Regions from separate parts of the Homo sapiens genome. Here region 2 is linked to region 1. The links come from fine-mapping of genetic effects on gene expression. A gene starts in region 1. The other region holds a variant in brackets. All regions are shown on one strand. Distances are between the middles of the regions.

Region 1 (5,487 bases):
ACCTCATGATCTGCCTGCCTCAGCCTCCTAAAGTGCTGGGATTACAAGCGTGAGCCACTGCGCCCTGCCCATTTTTTAGTGTTTAAAGGCAATGCAGCCCTGCAGCATTTAGGTCTCCTGCACCATCATCATTATCGCCATCATTATCACTATCATCATCACCATCATCATCTTCATCATCACCATCATCATCATCATTATTATCACCATCATCACCATTATCATCATCACCATCACCATTATCACCATCACCACCATCATCATCATCACCACCATAATCACCAACATCACCATCTTCATCGTCATTATCACACCATCATCACCACCATCATCATCATTATCCCTATCATCACCATTATCATCATCACCATCATCACCATCTTCATGGTCATTATCACACCATCATCATCACCATCATCTTCATTATCACTATCATCACCATTATCATCATCATCATCATCACCATCACCATCATCATCACCATTTTCATCATCACTATTATAACCACCACCATCATGATCATTATCATCACTATCATTATCACAACTCTTTGCTGATTATCTTCAGGGCAGAATAGGGAGTGTTAATGGTTAATACCATTGCCAACACCCCAAAATAACAACTCTGCATGCCTACATTTGATGTCCACAGGCCACCTATTTCTTCTAATGTAGCCTGCCAGTCAACAAGTCCCACAGATCTAAACTCCCAAATTCTATCTATTATTACTAACAAAAATTCTTCTACTCATTCATTAATTATTTTAGAGGTAATTCAGCATGCTGTTTAGGCATACAAAGTCTGAAGTCAAAGTGCTTAGGTTTAAAAATCTGGCTTCACCAATTAATGATTGCGTGGCCTTGAGGAAGTTATTTAATCTCTTTGTGCCTCAGTTTCCTCCTTGGTAAAATAGGGTATTCAGATCCACTCTTCAACAGCAGAGGAAACCCATACTTGCTACTTAGAATATGTCCCCAATATCCTCCATTCTTAAATTTGATCCAATGACCAAAACACACAAGACATAGAAGAAAAACCAGAAACACAGAAGATAAACAAGGCTGAGACAAACTGACACCTGAAGAAAGAGAAATAAGAGCACAGGAAGGGTCTATCTCATCCTTCAGGACTCAGCTCGAACTGCCCCTCCTCAACCCCAGACTTCTCCCTTCAACATAACTCCCGACCACATTCTATAACAACTTCTTTCATAGCACTTATCACTACCTGAAATTCCTATGTTTACTTATTTTTTGGGGCAACATAGTATAGTGGAAAAGCTTACAGACTCTGAAGTCAGACTGTCTGGCTTGAAATCCTGCCTCTACCCCTTATTGACTAAGTGGCCTTGGGAAAATTATTTTATCTCTTTTGCCTCAGTTTTCTCATTTGCAAAATAGGACTAATAATGACCCAATGTCATAGAAATGTTGTGACAATTGGATACACTCTATGTTTAAAGAAGTTACAGCAGTGCTAAGTGGGCTATGATCATCTGTGCCTTCTTTCCTGTCTGCTCCTACCCACTAGAATATCAGCCTCAAGAGTGCAGGAACTTAGTCTTTTTTTCTCACTGCTATATCCTCTAGTGCCTAGAACAGCACCTGACACACAGGACTTGCTCAGGTCAAATGAATGACTATAGAGAAAAATCTATCCTAACAGATGGACTTCCCTGAGCTATGGAATTTTGTCAAAGGTTCCCTGAATGAAGGTGTTTGCAGCATCCAGTCTGGACTTATGATCTCTTGGCTGGACCATCCATGGCCCTCCCATTTCTCCTGAAGTCTATTTCCAATCCAGGCCTCCCCTAGCCCCCCATTCAGCCTCACACTCACCCCAGAAGAGGAGCAGGTTGAAGCCACGCATTATGCTGTAGTTCTGTCATTCAAAGAAAAGAAACTTTTCTACTAACGCTGGGTTTTCAGTAACCAGAAGGTGTGCGAAGAGGGGAAGGCGGAGTCAGAGTTGCTCAATGCTGCCTGGTCATCATAGCCCTTTTTGCTGACTTGCTGCAACTAAAAGACAGCCTAGAAAATCCTAATTTCCCCCTTTCTTCACAATAAAGAGAAGTTAATCTGCCTAATGTATATCATTCTCTCTCTCTCTCCTTCCCATGGTCTCTCCCTTTTTCTTTCCCATCAACATCTATCTCCCATCTCTCAACACCTTCTTTCATTGCACCCAATAAAGGAGCTTCCGCTTCCTGCCTCCAGTGAAGCAAATCTCAGCCTTTAGGGTCTCTTCCCAGTCTCCCGTATAAAGACAGCCATCACAACCATCATGTACCAGGCAGTGTGCTAGGCACATTGGCAACAAAGTGTAATTTCATTATCATGTTAACCTTGTAAAGTAGGAATTCCCCTCCCTCCCTCTATTCACCAACAAAATGGAAACTGAGACTTGCAGAGGAGTTATAACTTGTCCAAGATCTCTCAGACTTGAGATTTGAACCCAGGACCCTCTGATTCCAGAGTCAAGAGCTTTAACCATCTTATTTTCCTTCAGATCTCAACTCTGTCTGACGATTATACAGCAACACTTCCACCCCATTCCCAGCTTCCTAACTCTCTCTGGTAACATCTTAGGGTCTCACAAGGGCAGACCCTCAGACAAGGATTCTAGCAAAAGTAGTTTATCAAGAAGGTGGCCCCAGAAAGCACCAGCTGGGGGAGGAGAAAGTGAATCAGGAAAGGCAAAGAGCCAATACTGGGTGTGTCTTCAAATAAGTTACATGGTGAGAAAGTGGAACTTAACCTCCCCAGGGATGACTGGGGAGCGGCATGGAACATACTCTTCAGTTATTCCAACCGAGGGGTGAGGGAGCTGAGGTATTTATATCCCACCTACTGTCAGTCATGGGTTGACTTGAGGCTTGCTCCTAGAGGGTGTCAACCCCTTGAATCTTCAGGCCTGGCCTCCAAGCAGATAGAATGGGCTCCAGTTGATGTAATCCCACTGATAACAAAGTGTAGTGACTGGCAGATATTGAAGCAGTGTCATCCATCTGGGGTAATACCCGAGGTTCATTGCCTCACACCAAGGAAATAGAAAATACAGACATGGCCGGGCACCGTGGCTCACACCTGTAATCTCAGCACTTTGGGAGACTGAGGAGGGTGGATTACGAGGTCAGGAGTTCAAGACCAGCCTGGCCAAGATGGGGAAACCCCGTCTTTACTAAAAATACAAAAAATCAGCCAGTGTGGTATGGTGTTAGGCACCTGTAATCCCAGCTACTCCGGAGGCTGAGGCAGAGAATTGCTTGAACCCAGGAGGCGGAGGCTGCAGTGAGCCGAGATCGTGCCACTGCACTCCAGCCTAGGCAACAGAGTGGGACTCTGTCTTAAAATAAAATAAAATAAAATAAAATAAAATAAAATAAAATAAAATAAAATAAAATGCAGACACACAAAAAATTACTTTTAGAGCAGAGGTTTAGGCCGAGCACAGTGGCTCATGCCTGTAATCCCAGCACTTTGGGAGGCTGAGACGGGTGGATCACCTAAGATCAGGAGTTTGAGACCAGCCTGGGCAACATAGTGAAACCCCATCTCTACTAAAAATACAAAAATTAGCCAGGTGTGGTGGCTCATGCCTGTAATTCCAGCTACTCAGGAGGCTGAGGCAAGAGAATCGCTTGAACCCGGGAAGCAGAGGTTGCAGTGAGCCGAGATTGTGCCATTGAACTCCAGCCTGGGTGACAGAGCAAGACTCCATCTCAAAAAAAAAAAAAAAAAGAAAGAAAGAAAAGAAATTTAATAGGCGAGAGAAAGAGAAAAGCTCTCTCTCCTGCAAAGAGAGGGGGCTCCCAAGTGGGTCTTCCAGTTTCATGGTGAAATGCACGGGGTTTTATAGATGAGCTTTAGGTGGTGATATCTGATTTACATAAGGGCCCAAAGATTAGTTGGACCAGGTGTGCCGTTTACATAGAGTACAAAGAAGCTGGCTGCCCACCCTAATATTTTATTATGCAGATGGGGTCTCTACCTGGCCAGGACCATGTTGCCTGTTCCTTTACCGTACACGTGGTTGATAAAGAAAAGGGAACATGGAGCAAGCCTGCATGTTGAACACGCCTGGCACCCAGGTAGCCTATTCCCATTGGCACAGCTGCCGGCATTCACCCGAGCAAGCTTCCAGCTTGCTTTTCTATGTCTGCCGGCTGATTTTTCAGACTGCTCTTTTTTAGAAAAGAAATTATTTGGCCGGGCGCGGTGGCTCACGCCTGTAATTCCAGCGCTTTGGGAGGCCGAGGCGGGTGGATCACAAGGTCAGGAGTTTGAGACCAGCCTGACCAACATGGTGAAACCCCGTCTCCACTAAAAATACAAAAATTAGCCGGGCATGGTGGCATGCGCCTGTAATCCCAGCTACTCGGGAGGCTGAGGCAGGAGAATTGCTTGAATCCGGGAGGCGGAGCTTGCAGTGAGCCGAGATTGTGCCGCTGTACTCCAGCCTGAGCGACAGAGCAAGACTCTGTCTCAAAAAAAAAAAAATAAAATAAAATAAATGATTTGGGGGCTGCTTTTTATTAAAAGGCAAACCTTACCGAGGACTCTCTTGCCCTCACTCTCTGCCTAAATAACTTCTTTCTAGCTCCCGTATCAGCGTTAAGCTAGGGCATATTAATGTGTTGTTAGGTTATGGGTGTGGGCAGCCACTGATAGCAGCTGTCACAAGGTACAAAGGAGGTGCATAGAACATCCCCGAATTCTTAGAAAGAAAAGCTCCACGTGTTTTTGCCTTCCCCTTTTGTTCTTTGCAAAGCAAACTACCAGCTTTGGAGTTATTGTCACTGGAACAAAGATTCACCAATGGCTTTCTTTTTTTATTTTATTTTATTTTTTTTTCTGAGATGGACTCTCGCTCTGTCACCCAGGCTGGAGTGCAGTGGCGTGATCTTGGCTTACTGCAACCTCCGCCTCCCGAGTAGTTTCTGGGATTACAGGCGTGTATTACCATGCCCAGCTAACTTTTGTATTTTTAGTAGAGACGAGGTTTCACCATGTTGGCCAGGCTGGTCTGGAACTCCCGACCTCAGGTGATCCTCCCACCTTGGCCTCCCAAAGTGTTGGGATTACAGGCCTGAGACACCGCGTCTAGCCAGATTCATCAGTGGCTTTCTGTTTGTGCCTTCATTCTTTCCCCGTTGGCCCCAAGAATACTAGCTGGTGGCGCTTGTGGCTGCAGCATTTACCCAGAGATAACTTTGCCGTGAAATATCTCACCTTTATTATTATTTTTGCATTGCTCTAGTGTATCAACTTTGAAAACAAAAGACATGATTCTATTTATAGTGTTCTGTTTTTAGTAGGGATATTTCCAGATTACTATATTTTACAAAATATGGTATTTTTTACTATATACTATAGTATATTTTACAAAATACAGTAATTCTTGATTGCTGAAAATGTCAGATCCTAGAAAAGTGTAGCATTCCTACGCATGATGTTACTATCATTCTCAAACAGTTGTTGGCTGAAA
Region 2 (5,000 bases), 44 kb before region 1:
CGCTCTTGTCTCCCAGGCTGGAGTGCAATGGCGCAACCTCGGCTCACAGTAACCTCTGTCTCCCAGGTTCAAGCGATTCTCCTGCCTCAGCCTCCTGAGTAGCTGGGATTACAGGCGCGGGCCACCACACCTGGCTAAATTTTGTATTTTCAGTAGAGATGGGGTTTCACCATGTTGGCCGGGCTGGTCTCAGACTCCTGACCCGAAGTGATCTGCCTGCCTTGGCCTCCCAAAGTGCTGGGATTACAGGCATGAGCCACCATGTCTGGCCAACATCATCATAATTATTATTTCCATGATTGTTCATACCTAATATTTACTGCACTCTTGGCAATGCCTGGCATTGTACTAAGCATCTCACACATATGGTTTGTTCATCATCACCACCACCTCCATGAGAGAGGTCTAGAGGGGAGAACTTGGCATTTCAAGGAAGTAGAAAGTTGGCTGGTACAGCCAGAGGGCCGAGCAGGCAGGAAAAAGCCAGAAAGGGACCCTAGGGAAGTTGGGTAGGGCCAGGCAGTGAAGGATCTGAGGTGTCAGGCTCAGGGAGTGGACATCACCCTGAGTGCAATGGAGAAGCTATAGAACAGTTTCACACAGAAGAGCATCAGGATCAACTTTGAGTTTTAGGAATCTCACTCTGAAAATCCCTCTCGCTACAAAACACCAAAAATGCTGGAGGAACCCCAACAGATAGCCTTTTAAATTTATTTATTTATTTATTTTTATTTTATTTTTTGAGACCAAGTCTTGCTCTGTCACCCAGGCTGGAGGGCAGTGGCGCCATCTCGGCTCACTGCAAGCTCCACCGCCCAGGTTCACGCCATTCTCCTGCCTCAGCCTCCTGAGTAGCTGGGACTACAGGCGTGCACCACCACGCCTGGCTGATTTTTTGTATTTTTAGTGGAGACGGGGTTTCACCATGTTAGCCAGGATGGTCTCGATCTCCTGACCTCGTGATCCGCCTGCCTCAGCCTCCCAAAGTGCTGGGATTACAGGCATAAACCACCACGCCCGGCCCAGAATTTTATTTTCTAGTCCACCCTTTCAATAAGAATGGGGTCTTTATTTTATTTGGTGGACTCTACACCTTCTTCAGACCCTAGGGCTTGCCCATCCAACTCCACAAATGACCATTCAATCTCCAAGGTTTTAGATTCTTGATTTTAGGAAATACCCTTAGGGCAGCTACAGCATTCTGGTTCATTACTGCTGTCTAATTTATGGCCTCTGAAGATTTGTTTTTATTTTCTTAACGAGCTTAAGAGGCTGTCTGTTGGGGCCAGGCGCCCCAAGACCTTATTTGGAAATAGAATCTTTACAGAAATAATCAAGTTAAGATGAACTCATTAGGGCAGACCCTAATCTGACTGAAATATGACTAGTGTTCCTTTTTTTTTTTCTTTTTTTTGAGACAGTCTCCCTCTGTCACCCAGGCTGGAGTGCAGTGATGTTATCTCGGCTCACTGCAACCTCTCCCTCCAGGGGTCAAGTTATTCTTGTGCCTCAGCCTCCCGAGGCTGGGACTATTGGTGCCTGCCACCACGCCTGGCTCATTTTTTGTATTTTTCAGTAGAGACAGGGTTTTGCCATGTTGGCCAGGCTGGTCTCGAACTCCTGACTTCAGGTGATCCACCCGCCTCGGCCTCCCAAAATGCTGGGATTACAGGCATGAGCCACTGCACCTGGCCGGTGATCTTACAAATGGGAAAATTTGTTGGAGAGGGGTCTGGAACAGACCCTCCCTCGTGTTGTCATGGGGAGCGTGGCCCTGCCAATACCTTGATTTCAGGCTTCAAGCCTCCAGAACTGTGAAACAACAAGTCTCTGTTGTTCTAAGCCACCCAGCATGCAGTAGCTTATTACGGTGACCCCTGAAAATTAATACATGCCCCCCATTAAAAAAAATCTGATAGACATCAGCACAAAACCTCTGTGGAGGAATATAATTTCAAGCATTCCCAAGACTTAGATCAGTCAAGTAAACATTACAAATGAAACTAGGCACAGAAAGACACATTTCACATGTTCTCAGTTCTTTGTGGGAGCTAAACATTTAAAACAGGTGAACTCATGGAGCTAGAGAGTAGAACAGCAGTTACCAGAAGCTGGGAAGGATAGTGAAGGGGTGGGTGGGGAACAGGGAAGAGGGGATGGTTAATGGGTACAAAAAAATAGAAAGAATGAATAAGATCTAGTATTTGTTAGCAAAACAGGGTGACTATAGTTAATAATAATTGCATTGTAGATTTAAAAATAACCAGGAGAGGCTGGACACAGTGGCTCATGCCTGTAATCCCAGCACTTTGGGAGGTCGAGGCGGGTGGGTCACCTGAGGTCATGAATTCGAGACCAGCCTGGAAAACATGGCGAAATCCCGTCTCTACTAAAAATACAAAAAATTAGC[T/C]GGGCGTGGTGGCGCACACCTGTAATCCCAGCTACTCGGGAGGCTGAGGCAGGAGAATCGCTTGAACCCAGGAGGCAGAGACTGCAATGAGCTGAGATCATGCCATTGCACTGCAGCCTGGGTGACAGAGCAAGACTCTGTCTCAAAATAAAAATAAAAATAAACCAAACAATAAAACAAAACAAAAACCAGAAGAACATAATTGGATTGTGTGTAACACAAAGGACAAATGCTTGAGGGGACAGATACCTCGTTGACTCTGATGTGATTATTATGTATTCTGTGCCTGTATGAAAATATTTCATATACCCCATAAATATATACACTTACTTTGTGCCCACAAAAATTAAAAATAAAAAAAAATTTAATCCTCGAAAAATATGACAAAAGACATAAGGGAATGAGCCACCATGAGTGAGAGTCAGAAGAATCATCATCTGGCAGGGCTGTCAAGTCTGGATGGAGGTTGGGAGGCAAAGAGATGGGTGTTTAACATTCCCTGGCCTCCCTTTGCCTCGATCCACCATTTCCCTCTGTCATCTCACTCCTTCCCCCACAATTCCTCCTAATTTCTTTTTACTTTTTCTTTCATTCAACATCTGTGCCTAGGAGATGACATAGGATTTAAAAAAGATTTATTTAGGCAGATAGTGAGGGTAAGGAAGTCCTCGGTAAGGTTTTCCTTTTAATGAAAAGCAGCTCCCAAATCATTTTCTTTTCTAATGGAGAGCAGCCGGTAGAATCGAGCTATAGACATAGAAAGGCAAGCTAGAAGCTTGCATGGGTGAATGCTGGCAGTTGTGCCAATAGGAAAGCGGTTACCTGGGGAATAGGCATGTTCAAAATGGCAGCTCTGGCTGGGCGCAGAGACTCACGCTTGAAATCCCAGCACTTTGGGAGGCTGAGGCAGGTGGATTAACTGAGGTTAGGAGCCTGGTCAACGTGGTGAAACCCCATCTCTACTAAAAGTACAAAAATTAGCTGGTCATAGTGGCATATGCCTGTAATCCCAGCACTTGGGGAGGCCGAGGCAGGCAAACTACGTGAGGTCAGGAGTTTGAGACCAGCTTGGCCAACGTGGTGAAAACCCATCTCTATTAAAAATACAAAATTGCCGGGTGTGGTGGTGCGTGCCTGTAATCCCAGCTATTCGGGAGGCTGAGGCAGAATAATTGCTTGAACCCAGGAGGCAGAGGTTGCAGTGAGCCGAGATTGCACCACTGCACTCCAGCGTGGGTGACAGAGTGAGACTCCGTCTAAAAAAAAAGAAAAAAAAAATGGCAGCTCCGTCTTCCCTTTTCTTTGTAAACCATGTAGACAGTAAGGAGAAGACAACATGGTGCCAGCCAAGTAAAGACCCCATTTGCATAATAAAAGATCAGGGTGGGTGGCCAGCTTCCTCGCGCTCTACGTAAATGTCACACTGGGTCCAACCAATCTTTGGGCCCTATGTAAATCAGACACCGCCCCCTCAAGCCAGTCTAAAATCTGTTGCACTTTGCTGCGGGCCAGAAGTCCCACTCAGGAGGCCCTCTCTCTTGCAAGACACAGAGAGCTAGTCTCCTTTCTCTTTCTTTTGCCTATTAAACCTCTGCTCTTAAACTCACTCCTTGTGTGTGTCTGTGTCCTTGATTTCCTTAGCATGAGGCAACGAACCTCAGGCATTATTACCCCCAGACAATGACACTGCTTCAGAGAGACTCATGGACCTGTGCACAAGACGGATACAATTATGGTCCCTCCCAGGGGTATTTGCCTTTCAGAAGGAAAAACAAAATTCCCAAGTCAAAGAAATTACTCTGTAACTTCGAAATCTCAAGAATGAAGGATTGGAAGGGAGAACTTTTTTTTTTTTTTTTTGAGATGGAGTTTTGCTCTTGTTGCCTAGGCTGGAGTGCAATGGCGCAATCTCGGCTCACCGCAACCTCTGCCTCCCTGGTTCAAGCAATTCTCCTCTCCTGCCTCAGCCTCCTGAGTAGCTGGGATTACAGGCATGTGCCAACACACCCAGCTAATTTTGTATTTTTAGTAGAGATGGGGTTTCTCCATGTTGGTCAGGCTGGTCTTGAACTCCTGACCTCAAGTGATCCTGGGCCTCTCAAAGTGCTGGGATAACAGGCATGAGCCACCGCAACCTGGCCGATAACTTATTTATTTATTTTTTTTTTTTTGAGACGGAGTTTCACTCTGTTGCCCAGGCTGGAGTACAGTGGCATGAATTTGGCTCACTGCAACCTCCATGTCTCCTGGATTCAAGCGATTCTCCTGCCTCAGCCTCCTAAGTAGCTGGGATTACAAGTGCTCGCCACCACACCCAGCTAATTTTTTGTATTTTTAGCAGAGATGGGGTTTCGCCAAGTTGGCCAGACTGTTCTCGAACTCCTGACCTCAGGTGATCCACCCGCCTCAGCCTCCCAAAGTGCTGGGATTACAGGCGTGAGCCACCACGCCCGGCCTGGAAAGGAGAACTTTTGATGGGAATAAGTGACCCTCTCAGCTGCACACGTCCCTGGAAATTCCAGATCTCGCAGGTCTCCTTGCTCCTCCTTCAGAACACACTTCGCCAGGCTGTTGTAGTATTTGCTTACCA

Evidence for each region. PIP is the estimated chance that this variant, and not a neighbour inherited with it, causes the effect.
Region 2: its variant is the best candidate, but not a certain one, in a credible set for the expression of ADGRE1 in whole blood (TOPMed, PIP 0.56).

The regions. Positions count from the first base shown.
Region 1 is chr19:6,883,991-6,889,477 of GRCh38, reverse strand. ADGRE1 (adhesion G protein-coupled receptor E1) reads right to left here and starts at 1,899. Exons shown (of 21, transcript NM_001974.5): 1 at 1,839-1,899. The coding sequence starts at 1,869. RefSeq lists an enhancer at 1,846-1,905.
Region 2 is chr19:6,928,210-6,933,209 of GRCh38, reverse strand. It overlaps ADGRE1 (adhesion G protein-coupled receptor E1), which reads right to left. Exons shown (of 21, transcript NM_001974.5): 17 at 4,999-5,000. The region is part of intron 1 of LOC105372256 (a long non-coding RNA gene); the gene reads left to right. Among named protein-coding and RNA genes, the nearest start is that of ADGRE1, 43 kb to the right of the region's middle. The variant T/C (reference allele first, on the strand shown) is at 2,411.